Linked DNA regions of Homo sapiens: region 2 is linked to region 1. Evidence: fine-mapped expression QTL. Tissue or cell type: tibial nerve. Region 1 holds a variant in brackets; the other region holds the start of a gene. All regions are shown on one strand. Distances are from middle to middle.

Evidence for each region. PIP is the estimated chance that this variant, and not a neighbour inherited with it, causes the effect.
Region 2: it holds the start of PRMT1, and the variant in region 1 is fine-mapped to the expression of PRMT1 in tibial nerve (GTEx, PIP above 0.99).

What each region holds. Positions count from the first base shown.
Region 1 is chr19:49,058,174-49,066,253 of GRCh38, reverse strand. NTF4 (neurotrophin 4) reads left to right here and starts at 1,436. Exons shown (of 2, transcript NM_006179.5): 1 at 1,436-2,515; 2 at 4,245-5,126. The coding sequence starts at 4,257. The coding sequence ends at 4,889. It also overlaps the pseudogene LOC124904739. The variant C/T (reference allele first, on the strand shown) is at 4,093.
Region 2 is chr19:49,675,339-49,680,338 of GRCh38, reverse strand. PRMT1 (protein arginine methyltransferase 1) reads right to left here and starts at 3,068. Exons shown (of 11, transcript NM_001536.6): 1 at 3,023-3,068; 2 at 414-467. The coding sequence starts at 3,058. RefSeq lists a silencer at 2,574-2,853 and enhancers at 2,698-3,429, 3,434-3,583.

The DNA of each region.
Region 1 (8,080 bases):
CCCCCCACCCCCAATAAATAACTGGAGCGGCCTTGTGTGTTGCCTTGGCTGGGATGGTGAGGAGCAGGAAACACCCTAACCGGGGACACCCTCCTGCCACCTTGCCATGCTATATTTAGGCTGAGGGGGTGTGGGATGACCCTCGAGGCAGGTGTCAGTTTTCCTTCTGAAAATAGCGCAGGCGGAGGGGAGCGGAGTCTCAGGGTAGAGGTGTGGTGGGGTGAGGAGCCCCGCTGCCCTCATGACTGTCCTGAGACACTCCGGCTCCGGTCCCATCCCTGTCTTTCTCAGGGTCTCTCAGGGGCTCTGTCCCCTTCTCGGGGGGGTGGGGGGGTCTGCCCTCACGCTCTCTGGGCCTCTGTCTTCTCTCTGGGCTCCTGCCCTCCCCCACTCTCTCTAGTCTCGGTCCCCCTCTTTCTTTTGGTCTCTCCCCACTTTTCCATGTCTTCTCCCTATCTCTCCCTTCATGTCACCGCGCACCATTTCTCAAGGTAGCTGATTGTTCTTAAGACACATCTGTCTATCTCTGGTCCTATGATACCTTGCACGTCTCTTATCTGAGCTCAGGACAAGACCTTCTCCCCGGTCCCCAGCCAGGAAATTCCAGGGGAGAGGAGTATGCGGGAGCCCCCACATCCACTGTCTCCCCGGGCCTGGGGCCTTATCACTGCCCAAGCCCAGCTGGTTAATGTCTGGCGTGGAGCTCCTGGGAAGTGGGGAGGAGAGCAGAGGGTGGGAATCTGCCCCGGGATTGACACGCAATTGGCAAAAGACGGCAAAGGAATCTCAGGCCCAGACTCCTGGGGCTAATGGAGGAGGAGGCTGGGGGCTGGACTCCTGAGTCTGAGACGGGGCGGGGTTGGGAGGTGGTGGGGGGAACTGTGGGCTTAGTACTCAGGCGCCTGGGGCTGGGGGGAGAGGTGGCTGGGGTCGCAAGTCCTGGGTCTGAGGGAGGAGGGGCCGGATGCCTGGACTCCTGGGTCTGAAGGGAGGAGGGGCTGGGGGCCTGGACTGCTAGGTCCAAAGGAGGAGGCAGCTGGAAACTGGGACTCCTGTGACCAAGGCGGCCGCGTTGAACGAGCCAGGCCTGGCTTCCAAGGTCCCGGCACGCGAGTGCAAGGCAGGATCCCCCGGCCCCTCCTCTGCCGCCCGGCGCCGCCCCGCCCCCGCCCCCGACCCGGGCCCTGCGGAGCGTGAGCAGCTAGCACCCGGCGGGCCAGCGAGCGTCCCTGCAGCCAGCGAGCAGGAGGAGGAGCTGCTGCCGGGCGGAGGGCAGCCGCGGGAGCCGAAGAGGGCGCCCCAGGTAAGATCTCCACTCCTCCTCCCTCGGGATTCCGGCGTCCTGGTCGCCCTGCCCTCGGGTGGGGAGGGACGGGGGCGGGGCCGACCGGGGCGGGGCTTGGCGGAGGAAACTGAGGCAAGAGGGAAGTGTCCCAGATATGCAGCCGGTTTCCCCTGAGGGGTCTCGGAGTCCGGAACCCCCAACCCAAATCTGGAGGATGAGGAACCCGGAGTCTGCATTTCTTAGTATCCGAGAAGGAGGGGCCTGAATTCCAGAACTCCTGGGTCTGAGAGAGGAGGGCACTGGGGGCCTGGATTCCTGGGTCTGAGGGAGAAGGGCGCTGGGGGCATGGACTCCTGGGTCTGAAGGAGGAGGGCGCTGGGGACCTGGACTCCAGGGTCTGAGGGAGAAGGGTGCTGGGGGCCTGGGCCTGGACTCCTCCTGGGTCTGAGGGAGAAGGGTGCTGGGGGCCTGGACTTCTGGGTCTGAGAGAGGAGGGCGCTGGGGGCCTGGACTACTCCTGGGTCTGAGGGAGGAGGGCGCTGGGGATCTGAACTCCTGGGTCTGAAGGTGGAGGCCCTGGGGTCTGCACTACTCGGTCTGAGGGAGAAGGCGGTCCTGGTTGGGTCAGCCTGGGCTCCTTTCACTCTCCACCCTTCCCCTTTCCTGTACCGAGGAGCCAGGGCAGGCAGCCACTCCAGGTATGTGCAGAAGTCTTGGGCGGGCCCTGGCCTGTCCTGTGAGGAGGGAACATTCCAGGAAGCAGCTTGGGGAACCAGGGCTTCTTGAGTGTGGGCCCTCAGGGACCCGGGTGTCCAGGCCAGTTCCGCCCCATCTGGGAGATGAATGGGCCGAGGGGGATGTAATCTCTTCCAGCCTCCTTCATCCACTGCCTCTCCCTTCCCCTATTCTCCCTTCCCCTCCCTCCATCTGCTTCCCATCCCAGCCAGGAGCCATCACCTGGGTAGAAAAGGGGCCTCTGGAAAGGGGGCGGGGCCTTGACTCTTGGGTACCCTGCACTTGAAGAGGAACTCTGGGAAGGGGTTGTTCAGGGATTTGGCCCCTTCCCCACCTGCCTCTATAACCTGTCTATTCTTTTCTTCCCCTAGGTGGTTGCCCCCTCCCTCTCCTGAGATGTCAGGAAGGAGGGGGCCACCTGTGTCCTCCACAGGGGCCCCCCGAAGCCTGGGGACTCCCAGCCCCAGAGCTCCGAGGCGGAGGAGGTGCTGACAGGTCTGGTAACTACTGACTGTTTCCCAGTCTTCTCCACGCCACCCTTTCCCAGAACCACAGGCTTCCAGAATGTTGTAGGGAAACTGCAAAATCCGCGCCTCCACCAGCCTCTCCCAGCGCCAGGTCAATTTCACACACAGGGAAACTGAAGCCTGCCTCAGAGGGGCAGCGTTTTACCTCCTTAGTGGCAGTTTTGAGGTGAACTGGGGTCTCCCTAGGATTCCAGGTTGTGACCTTTCTCTAAATTGTGGAATGTGGCCAGGCGTGGTGGCTTGAGTCTGTAGTCCCAGCTACTCAGGAGGCTGAGGCAGGAGAATGCCATGAACTTGGGAGGCGGAGCTTGCAGTGAGCCAAGATCGTGCCACTGCACTCCAGCCTGGGCGACAGAGGGAGATTCCATCTCAAAAAAAAAAAAAAAAAAATTTTGTTTGGGACCAGGCATGGTGGCTTATGCTTGTAATCCCAGCACTTTGGGAGGCCAGGACACGACTATTGCTTGAGGTTGGGAGTTCAAGACCAGTCTGGCCAACATGGTGAAACCCCATCTCTATTAAAAATACAAAAATTAGCTGGGCACAGTGGCAGGTGCTTGTAATCCCACCTACTCAGAAGGCTGAGGCAGGAGAATCACTTGAACCCAGGAGGCAGACATTGCAGTGAGCCAGGATTGTGCCACTGTACTCCAGCCTGGCCAACAGAGTGAGATTCTGTCTCAAAAAAAAAAAATTGTTTGGAACATCCTCCAAGATGCAAGACTGTCGGTTCCTCAGAGTTGCACAGGAAGGACGGCAGAGTGCAGTTGCCCAGAGGTGAAGTCCCATCTCTGCCATTTGCTGGCTGTGTGACCGGGCACAAATCATTAACTTCTCTGAGCCTGTATTTCAACATCTGTTACTGTTAAGTAATAGTAGTTGAATTATTTTTATTTTTATTTTATTATTATTATTGTTTTTTAAGACGGAGTTTCGCTCTTGTTGCCCAGGCTGGAGTGCAATGGTTCAATCTCAGCCCACCACAACCTCCACCTCCTGGGTTCAAGTGATTGCCCTGCCTCAGCCTCCCAAGTAACTGGGATTACAGACATGCGCCACCACACCCGGGTAATTCTGTATTTTTAGTAGAGAAGGGGTTTCACCATGTTGACCAAGCTGGTCTGGAACTCCTCACCTCAGGTGAGCCGCCCATCTCGGCCTCCCAAAGTGCCGGGATTACAGGTGTGAGCCACCATGCCTGGCCTTATTTTTACTTTTGAGACAGAGTCTCACTCTTGTCGCCCAGGTGGCAGGGGAGTGGTGCACTCTCTGCTCACTGCAACCTCGGCCTCCTGGGTTCAAGTGATTCTCCTGCCTCAGCCTACTGAGTAGCTGGGATTACAGGCGTGCAGCACTATGCCCGGTTAATTTTGGTATTTTTGGTAGAGATGAGGTTTCACCATGTTGGCCAGGCTGCTCTGGAACTCCTGACCTCAAGTCATCCACCTGCCTCAGCCTCCCAGAGTGCTGGGATTAGAGGTGTGGGGCACAGTGCCTGGCCTGTAGTAGTTGAATATTTATTATTAATCTACAAGTTGCGCATTA[C/T]GCAAGCCCTAGATATAGGGTCCCCCAAACTTCTAGAACAAGGGCTTCCCCACAATCCTGGCAGGCAAGCCTCCCCTGGGGTTCCCAACTTCTTTCCCCACTGAAGTTTTTACCCCCTTCTCTAATCCCAGCCTCCCTCTTTCTGTCTCCAGGTGCTCCGAGAGATGCTCCCTCTCCCCTCATGCTCCCTCCCCATCCTCCTCCTTTTCCTCCTCCCCAGTGTGCCAATTGAGTCCCAACCCCCACCCTCAACATTGCCCCCTTTTCTGGCCCCTGAGTGGGACCTTCTCTCCCCCCGAGTAGTCCTGTCTAGGGGTGCCCCTGCTGGGCCCCCTCTGCTCTTCCTGCTGGAGGCTGGGGCCTTTCGGGAGTCAGCAGGTGCCCCGGCCAACCGCAGCCGGCGTGGGGTGAGCGAAACTGCACCAGCGAGTCGTCGGGGTGAGCTGGCTGTGTGCGATGCAGTCAGTGGCTGGGTGACAGACCGCCGGACCGCTGTGGACTTGCGTGGGCGCGAGGTGGAGGTGTTGGGCGAGGTGCCTGCAGCTGGCGGCAGTCCCCTCCGCCAGTACTTCTTTGAAACCCGCTGCAAGGCTGATAACGCTGAGGAAGGTGGCCCGGGGGCAGGTGGAGGGGGCTGCCGGGGAGTGGACAGGAGGCACTGGGTATCTGAGTGCAAGGCCAAGCAGTCCTATGTGCGGGCATTGACCGCTGATGCCCAGGGCCGTGTGGGCTGGCGATGGATTCGAATTGACACTGCCTGCGTCTGCACACTCCTCAGCCGGACTGGCCGGGCCTGAGACCCATGCCCAGGAAAATAACAGAGCTGGATGCTGAGAGACCTCAGGGATGGCCCAGCTGATCTAAGGACCCCAGTTTGGGAACTCATCAAATAATCACAAAATCACAATTCTCTGATTTTGAGCTCAATCTCTGCAGGATGGGTGAAACCACATGGGGTTTTGGAGGTTGAATAGGAGTTCTCCTGGAGCAACTTGAGGGTAATAATGATGATGATATAATAATAATAGCCACTATTTACTGAGTGTTTACTGTTTCTTATCCCTAATACATAACTCCTCAGATCAACTCTCATGGATTTGATCATTGGTGGCCCTTGGTGTTAAGTTGCTGACTACTCAGTCTCAGAGGACACCACCTTGCTGGGGAGTGGGAGGGGACATTTCACGATGTGGGTGGAGGAGGAGAGAAACTAGAACAGGCAAGCAGATGGCCAGGGGACCTTGAGAACGTGGCCCACAGAAGGCCTTTAAGTATCTGGGAGATGGGGTTCAAATGGGAAATCTTACTTGGTAAGAGGGGGCAAAGGTTGACTTAGAATATTCTGTTTTGAGGTAATAAGCTACCGATCACAGAGGAGTACAAGCAAGGTTGAATGAGAAGTGATCAGGATGCTGGAGAGTTCAGCCCTCGGCAGGGAGCTGAAGTCAGGTTTCTAGCCCTCTTCCCTGTCCCAACCTTTACTCTACATTGGGAAAGAAACAGACCTTAAAATTTTCCAGCTTGATGGCCAGGTGCGATGGCTCATTCCTGTAATCCCAGCACTTTGGGAGGCCGAGGTGGGTGAATCACCTGAGGTCAGGAGTTCGAGACTAGCCTGGCCAACATGGTGAAAACCCGACTCTACTAAAATTATATAAAGAAATTAGCTGGTCGTGGTGGCGGATGCCTGTAATCCAAGCTACTCTGAAGGGTGAGGTAGGAGAATTGCTTGAACTCAGGAGGCAGAGGTTGCAGTAAGCCAAGACTGTACCATTGCACTCCAGCCTTGGCAAAAAGAGCGAAACTCCATTTCAAAAAAAAGAAAAAAATTTTGTCCAGCTTGAGTGGGGCATGAGTTTCTGACTAACTCATCGGCCCCCTGGCTAGGATCAGGGGGTCACTGTCCATTGAGAGCTGTTGAGTAGGGCCAGCAAAATCCAACAGAAAGGCCCCAGAAGCCTGAATGGGGGAGGAGGGGTAAGTGGGATCCTGGGCATGGCTGCAGAAAGTAGCCTCAGTTTTCCTTGTCTGCAGAATGGGCTGGTAGGATGAGATAATGGGGGTTGAGCAGTCAGAGGCCTTGACCAAAAGCTTTTTTTTTTTTTTTTTTTTTTTTTTTTTTTTTGAGATGGAGTCTCGCTCTGTCACCCAGGCTGGAGTGCAGTGGTGTGATCTGAGCTCACTGCAGCCTTCACCTCCCGGGTTGAAGTGATTCTTCTGCCTTAGTTGGGATTACAGGTGTGCGCCACCACGCCCGGCTACTTTTTGTATTTTTTGGTAGAGACAGGGTTTCGCCATGTTGGCCGGGCTGGTCTCAAACTCCTGACCTCAAGTGATCCGCATGCCTCGGCCTCCCAAAGTGCTGGGATTACGGGCATGAGCCACTGCGCCCGGTGATCAAAAGCTGTTTATAGTGAAGAAGTGACAAGGGAAGCCAGGGACAGACCACAGGCCTTCACAATAGCCCTTCACATGTTACCCATCGCCCCACCAACTCTCTCTCTCTCTCTCAGGTCCAGCTTTGAGCAAAGGACATAGGCAACTTCTCCCCGCATCTATACAGACCAGGCCCCTGGGCAGGGTGGGGCGTGGCTGCCTCAGTTTCTACGTCTCCTTGTTTTCCATCTGTGACTTTGGTCGTTTTTGCCACCTTCATCTCTGTCTCTAACTTCCAGTGTCTGTCGCCTCTGGGTAGTACTAATAGCTCCCTTTCCATCGTGGTCTCTTTCTTCCTCCCTGTCTCTCCCCTTTCTTGTTGTATTTATTCCTCACTCATCAAAGCCCATCTTTTTCGCTATGGTCCGGTGCACTTCTCTCTAGATCCCTTTCTCTTTCCCCACCCAGCCTACCCAGGTGGAAGTTTTCAACCAAATCAAAGGCAGGCAGGACAGCTGACACCAGCGCTGACTCCTTCAGCACGTGCGGGAAGGGTTGGGGAGCCCCGGGGACATCTGGAAATCGTTACCCCGAGGTGGGCAGGCCTGGCAGAGGGAGGAAGCAGCCAGGAGGTTCTGGACCCTGGAGCAAAGGGGGGTGTTTCTCATGGATGTCCTGAGGTGCTGGGGGCAGTGCAGGGGTCTCTGTCTGTATCTCTGACACCCCCAGGTCTCTGTCCTTCTTTCTGTGTCTCTGTCTCCCCCACCCCCTGGGTCTCTGAAATCCTGAACTTCTCCATCCCCTTCTGTCCGCCTCTTTCTGACTCTCCATCCCCCACTCCGTGTTTCTCTGTGCCCCTCTTGGAGTCCCTGTCTCTCTGTCTCTGGGTCTCTTAATCACTCCATCCATCCATGTGCCTGCAGGCCTTTCATTGGCTGGATTGGGGTGGGCGGGTTCTGTCACCTGGGGCAACAGCAACAAACCAGCTCCTGCTTGGCTACAGGGAGGGGGTGGAACCATGGCCAGTGGCACCCTGGCTGTGCGCTGTGGCCCCCCGTGGTCTTTCATCTCTGCAACCGAGATGCCTGAATCCTGGCCCAACTGGCATCTCACCAGCAGCTACGTTACCCATGGCATTATCCCACCCGTACCCTTCCCCCCGCCCACGGTGCAGGTGGGCAGACCCTAGGCTGAAGCCCTGCGGGGCCTGGGGACCCAGAAAGATGGGGGCTGAGAAAAGGGGATTGGGAGCTTGGACTCCTCTCTGAAGGAGGAGGGTCCTGGAGTCCTGGGTCTGAGAGAGGAGGCGCCAGGGAATTTGGATGCCAGGGACTGCAGAGGAAAGGGCTGGGGGCCGACTGGAAGAGGTCAGAGTTTGGGGTGGGGGGTGATAGGGACTCCTGAGTCTTTCTAGCTGATGTGCGGCGCCTTCTCTCCAGTCCACGGTCGCGGACCCTCTACCTCCGACTGCAAAGCAGGATTCTCGCATCTGGGCTTTCGACGAGGTCCTCAGCAGATGGGAGACAACCTCTGGCTCGGCCTACGTGCCCAAGACCCATGGCGGGCCCTGCGCCCAGCCCAGAGCCCCAGAGCCTGCAGACCCCACGCGGAC
Region 2 (5,000 bases), 620 kb before region 1:
CCCCCCAGGAACCCCAAAACCTAACAACCCCATTTTCCACTTCCAGGACCCCCCCAGAGCACCATCCAGGGGAGCACCCCGATACCTCAGCCACGCCTACCATCTCTCCAGTCTCTCTGACCCCGTCTCTAGCTCAGCCCACAGCTGGGGAGGGGAGGGGAAGGAAAATGGGGGCAGACACAGGGAAGGGCAAAGGGGGGTTGGAGGTGGAGTTAAGGAAGTAGCGGCGATACTGGGGGAGGCCAGCGGGGGCTGTGAACCTGGAGGGGTTGCTACTAAGTGTCTGGGGGCCTGGGGTAAACTGGTTTGAAGCAAGAGGGGTATGGTTAGACCTCAAGAAAGGGCCAGATGTGTGGCAAGATATATTGATGTGGAGGTCAGGGTGGGGAGGGGTCTCACAAAAGGATATTTACTTCTTCAAGAGGCGGCTGGAGGCTCATCCCATTAGCCAAGGTGGCTACAAAATTCTAGGAGAGAGTAACAGGGAAAAAGGATTAGCTACTGGGAGTGGCTGTGGGAGGGCTGGGTGGCGGAACCTGGGCTCTGGCCGGGGGGTGGGTTTCCAGCAATTCTCCTTCTTGGTGGGGAGTGGTGGCGAAGGGGGCAAGTAATGAGGTGGGGTGTTTAAGAAAGGGTGGGAAAAGTGAGGGGAGAAGAAAGGGGGGTCTCCTATCCCAGCTGTGGCTGGAGAGATGGTGGCCCACCCCCACGCTGCCCCTCTCTGGCCAGGCAGCTGACCACACACCTCCCCCATCCAGGCCAGGGGAATTGGCACCCACCACCGCCAGCTGTCGCTCCCTCTCATCACCTAATCTCCTCCAGATTAGGTGACACTTCCTGACACACACACCCCTATCCTAGGGTGCCATGAATAGCAGAAGGGAGCGGGGCTGGCAGGATATGCCCACAGGGCATCTGCCACCTCTGCAAACCAGTCTCATGTCTGAGAGGATTCCAGAATAGAGGTGTGGCACACGGGTACTTCCCCAGAGCTAGTACCCCAGACCCCAGCTCCTGCCTTGGACTCAGGAGCCCCAAACAAAACCAGCTGGAACCAACCCCCTCCCTTATGACCCTCTGCCCACGAAGGTAGGGTCCCAGGGAAGATGGGCAGCTCCTGGACCCTCTAAGAATGAGAGGACTCCAGAAAGTGGCTTGGGGGCACGGTGGCTCACACCTGCAATCCCGGCACTTTGGGAGGCCGAGGCAGGTGGGTCACCTGAGGTCAGGAGTTTGAGACCAGCCTGACCAACATGGTGAAACCCTATCTCTACTAAAAATACAAAAATTAGCTGGGCCTGGTGGCGGGTGCCTGTAATCCCAGCTACTCAGGAGGCTGAAGCAGGAGAATCGCTTGAACCCGGGAGGCGGAGGTTGCAATGAGCCGAGATCAAGCCATTGCACTCCAGCCTGGGTGACAGAGTAAGACTCCGTCTCAAAAAAAAAAAAAAAAAAAGTGGCTTGGGGAGTCAGGCCATCGCCCCCATTCAGACACCCATCCCAGGCCCTGAAGACTTCCAGGTGCGGCCAAGCCTGAGGCCACCTCTGGGAAAGTTATTTCCTCCATCCATAGAGCCCCAGGTGCAGGAGACAGCCAAGAGGGTGGGAAGTCATTACAGTGACCCCTGGGAGCTGCATCCTGACAGCTGAGAGCTGACCTGCCCCTCCAGCCAATGCCATAGGTAAGGGGTGGAAGGACAGAGGCCCCATCAGATTACATCTCTTCCAGATGTGACCACTATCCAAGTCTCCAAGAAGGGCCACGTCACAGGCCATGACCTACTAGGCTCCAAGCACCCTCCCTCCAGCTCTCCCAAGCTAGCGGGGATGCCTATAAGAAGAAAGGTGCTGAGGGGGTTTCCCACTCGGGCCTATTTCTCAATACCACTGAAAACTACCGCCAGACAACCCCAGCCCCAGAGGGCTTGAAACGCAAGACTGAAACCTCCCCCACATGGCTGCACGAGAACCAAACCTCACTCGAAACCATTTCAGGCACCCACTCTCAGGACCCCAGGGCTCAGGACCCTGCACAGGGCTTCAGGAAGAAGGAGGTCATCTCGCACCCTCACAAAGACCCGGGGGAGATAAACGGCTCCAGTAGGGTAAAGCTCTCAGCCTACATATTTCCCACAACTCCTTCCCAGCGGACATACCCTCCTCCCTCCGCCCGCCAGGAAGAAATCCGAGGGGAGGTGGGCTTCAGGACACGCCCCATGAAAAAGATGTCCCTCCCACACACCCAGAAATGGCCACAAGGGGGTGCACGGCGCCTATTAATGGGAAAATCTCTATCTAGATGCCCCACCACCACCCAGAGGGAGGTCACAGGGGCATGCCCCATCCCCCAACTCCTAAAGCCCTGGGCGAGGGGGAGAATTCTGGGAGGGGAAACGGGGTCGGCGGGGGACCCCATTCTTGGTTTTCCTCCAGTCCCTAACCCAGAACGCACAAAACCGGGTCCGATATCCCAACAGATGCCCCCGGAGCTCGGAAGGAGGTTGGTAAAGGGCTGAGAAGCACTGCTCCTCCCAAGAGACTCCCCACATCGTGGAGGGCCCCAGGTCGATCACACCCCACGGCGTGTGCCCAGGTCCCCGGGGAGGAGGGCTGGGGGCGTCAGGAGGGTCGGACCCCCTCCCCGCCCCCCTGGGCGCCCCTCCCCGGCCGGGGGCGGGGCCTTTGTCCCGCACGTGGAGCCCGCCGGGCCACTGGACTCGGCACACCCCCTCCCCACCCACCGCGCAGCGGCCACGTGGGGGCCTGGCCGGAAGCGCCCCCAGCCCTCCTCCACGTGGGAGGGGGGATAAGACCCTCCGCTAGGCCGGATGCCGAAGGCCCTTGGAAGCTAGGGAGCCGTCACCTCAAACGATATCCCCGGATGTGGAACGTGCGGCGCCCCCGTGTGCGGCGGGGGACCTCCAACCCCATATCGCCAACTTAGAGCCCTTTCCCCACCACAGAGGCGTGAAACACCGACCCAAAGCCGCCTCCCGCCCACGGCGGCGCTCCAAGCGCTCACCTCCATGATGCAGTTCGCGGCCTCGGCTGCCGCCATCTTCACCCGCACCTACTCCTCCTCCGGCCGCCAAGACCCCCCCTTTCTCCTCACTCCCCCGGGACCGCCTTATACCAGAGGGTCCACGGCCCGCCTACCGCGACCCCGCTGGAAGATTTCATTGGCAATGGAGGCGGCCCGTCTGAGAATACCGTCTAGTAATTGGCTAGAGAATACGTCCATCATAGGTCAGGGGTTTGCCAACTCTGGCGTCCAGAATCCCGCCCCCTCAAGTCGACCCGGGATGGGGAAAACTGCCCGTCTATTGCAAGAAGCGCGACTGGTGATTGGGCAAAATCCACCAGGAATGCCCTCCCCTTTACACCCAGCACCGCCTCAAAGCTTCCCGGGGAGCCCCGCGCTAAAGGGGCGTCTTGAAACACCTGTCCATCACCAAAACGACCCGCCTCCTAATCGCTGCCATTGGTTTATCCGGAAGCGACGTCACGCAGCCTTTGGCCCACCCTCGCCAAGCGGCCGGCCTCAAGGAGAACACGGCAATTGGCCCACGGGTAGGGAAGAAGGCGGGGCTTCAGGCACCAACGATTGGCTCAAAGGAATTATCACTCCTCGTCCACTCGGTGGATCCTCCCAACCCGGGGGGAGTCTGGAGGAAAAAGGGAGCTTGTGCTCATTACCTGGGGGAAAAACGGAATCGGTGAGAGGCCCAGAGAGAGGAAGGGCATAGCTGGGGTCCCGAAGCAAGTGAGGAATAGGAGTCCGTCGTCAACACATTAAATCCCTAGCCCTTGACATAATCATTCCAAGTTTTTTAAAACCATCAACCCCTCTCAAGCCACTTGGTTTTTGCCAAGTCCCTCCCCCTGCCAGGAACGCCCACCTCTCTTTGTCTGGTCAGCTTCTAAACGTGAATCAGAGCACAGCTTAGGCACCACTTCCTCCGGGAAGCTTTCCTTGATTTGCAGAAAAAGTTCCTAGTTGAATGAAGCTGAATGCAAAGGGCCGAATGCGTGGGTCCTGCCCCTCCTCTCCCCGATCCCTCTACTTCCCTCTGCTCACACTTCTCTCCAATCCCGGAATGAGCTCGCTCTTTGGTTTCTGGGCCTCCGCGCAGGCTATACTCTCTGGCGTGCCGCTGGCAAACGCCTGAGACTTAAAATTTACAATAGGGTTCGGGCGCGATGGCTCACGGGTGTAATTCCAGCACTTTAGGAGGCGGAGGCAGGCGGATCACTTGACATCAGGAGTTCGAGACCAGTCTGGGCAACATGGTGAAACCCCCATTTCTATTAAAAATACAAAAATTACGCCAGGCGGCCGGGCGCGGTGGCTCACGCCTGTAATCCCAGCATTTTGGGAGACCGAGGCGGGCGGATCACAAGGTCAGGAGGTCGAGACCATCCTGGCTAACATGGTGAAACCCCCGTCTCTACTAAAAATACAAAAAATTAGCCGGGCGTGGAGGCTTAGGCAGGAGGATGGCGTGAACCCGGGAGGCGGAGCTTGCAGTGAGCTGAGATCGCGCCACTGCACTCCAGCCTGGGTGACAGAGCGAGACTCTTGTCTCAAAAAAAAAAAAAAAAAAAATTTGGCCGGGCGCGGTGACTCACGCCTGTAATCCCAGCATTTTGGAAGGCTGAGGTGGGCGGATCACAAGCTCAGGAGTTCGAGACCAGCCTAGCCAATATGGTGAAACCCCCGTCTCTACTAAAAAAACAAAAATTAGCCGGGTGTGGTGGTGGGCGCCTGTAGTCCCAGCTGCTCCAGAGGCTGAGGCAGGAGAATCACGTGAACCCGGGAGGCAGAGGTTGCAGTGAGCTGAGATGGTGCCACTGCACTCCAGCCTAGGCGACACAGCGAGACTCCATCTCAAAAAATAATAAAATAAATAAAAATAAAAATAAAAAAATTAGCCAGGACTGGTGGCACACGCCTGTAATCCCAGCTACTTGGGAGGCTGAGGCAGGAGAATCGCTTGAGC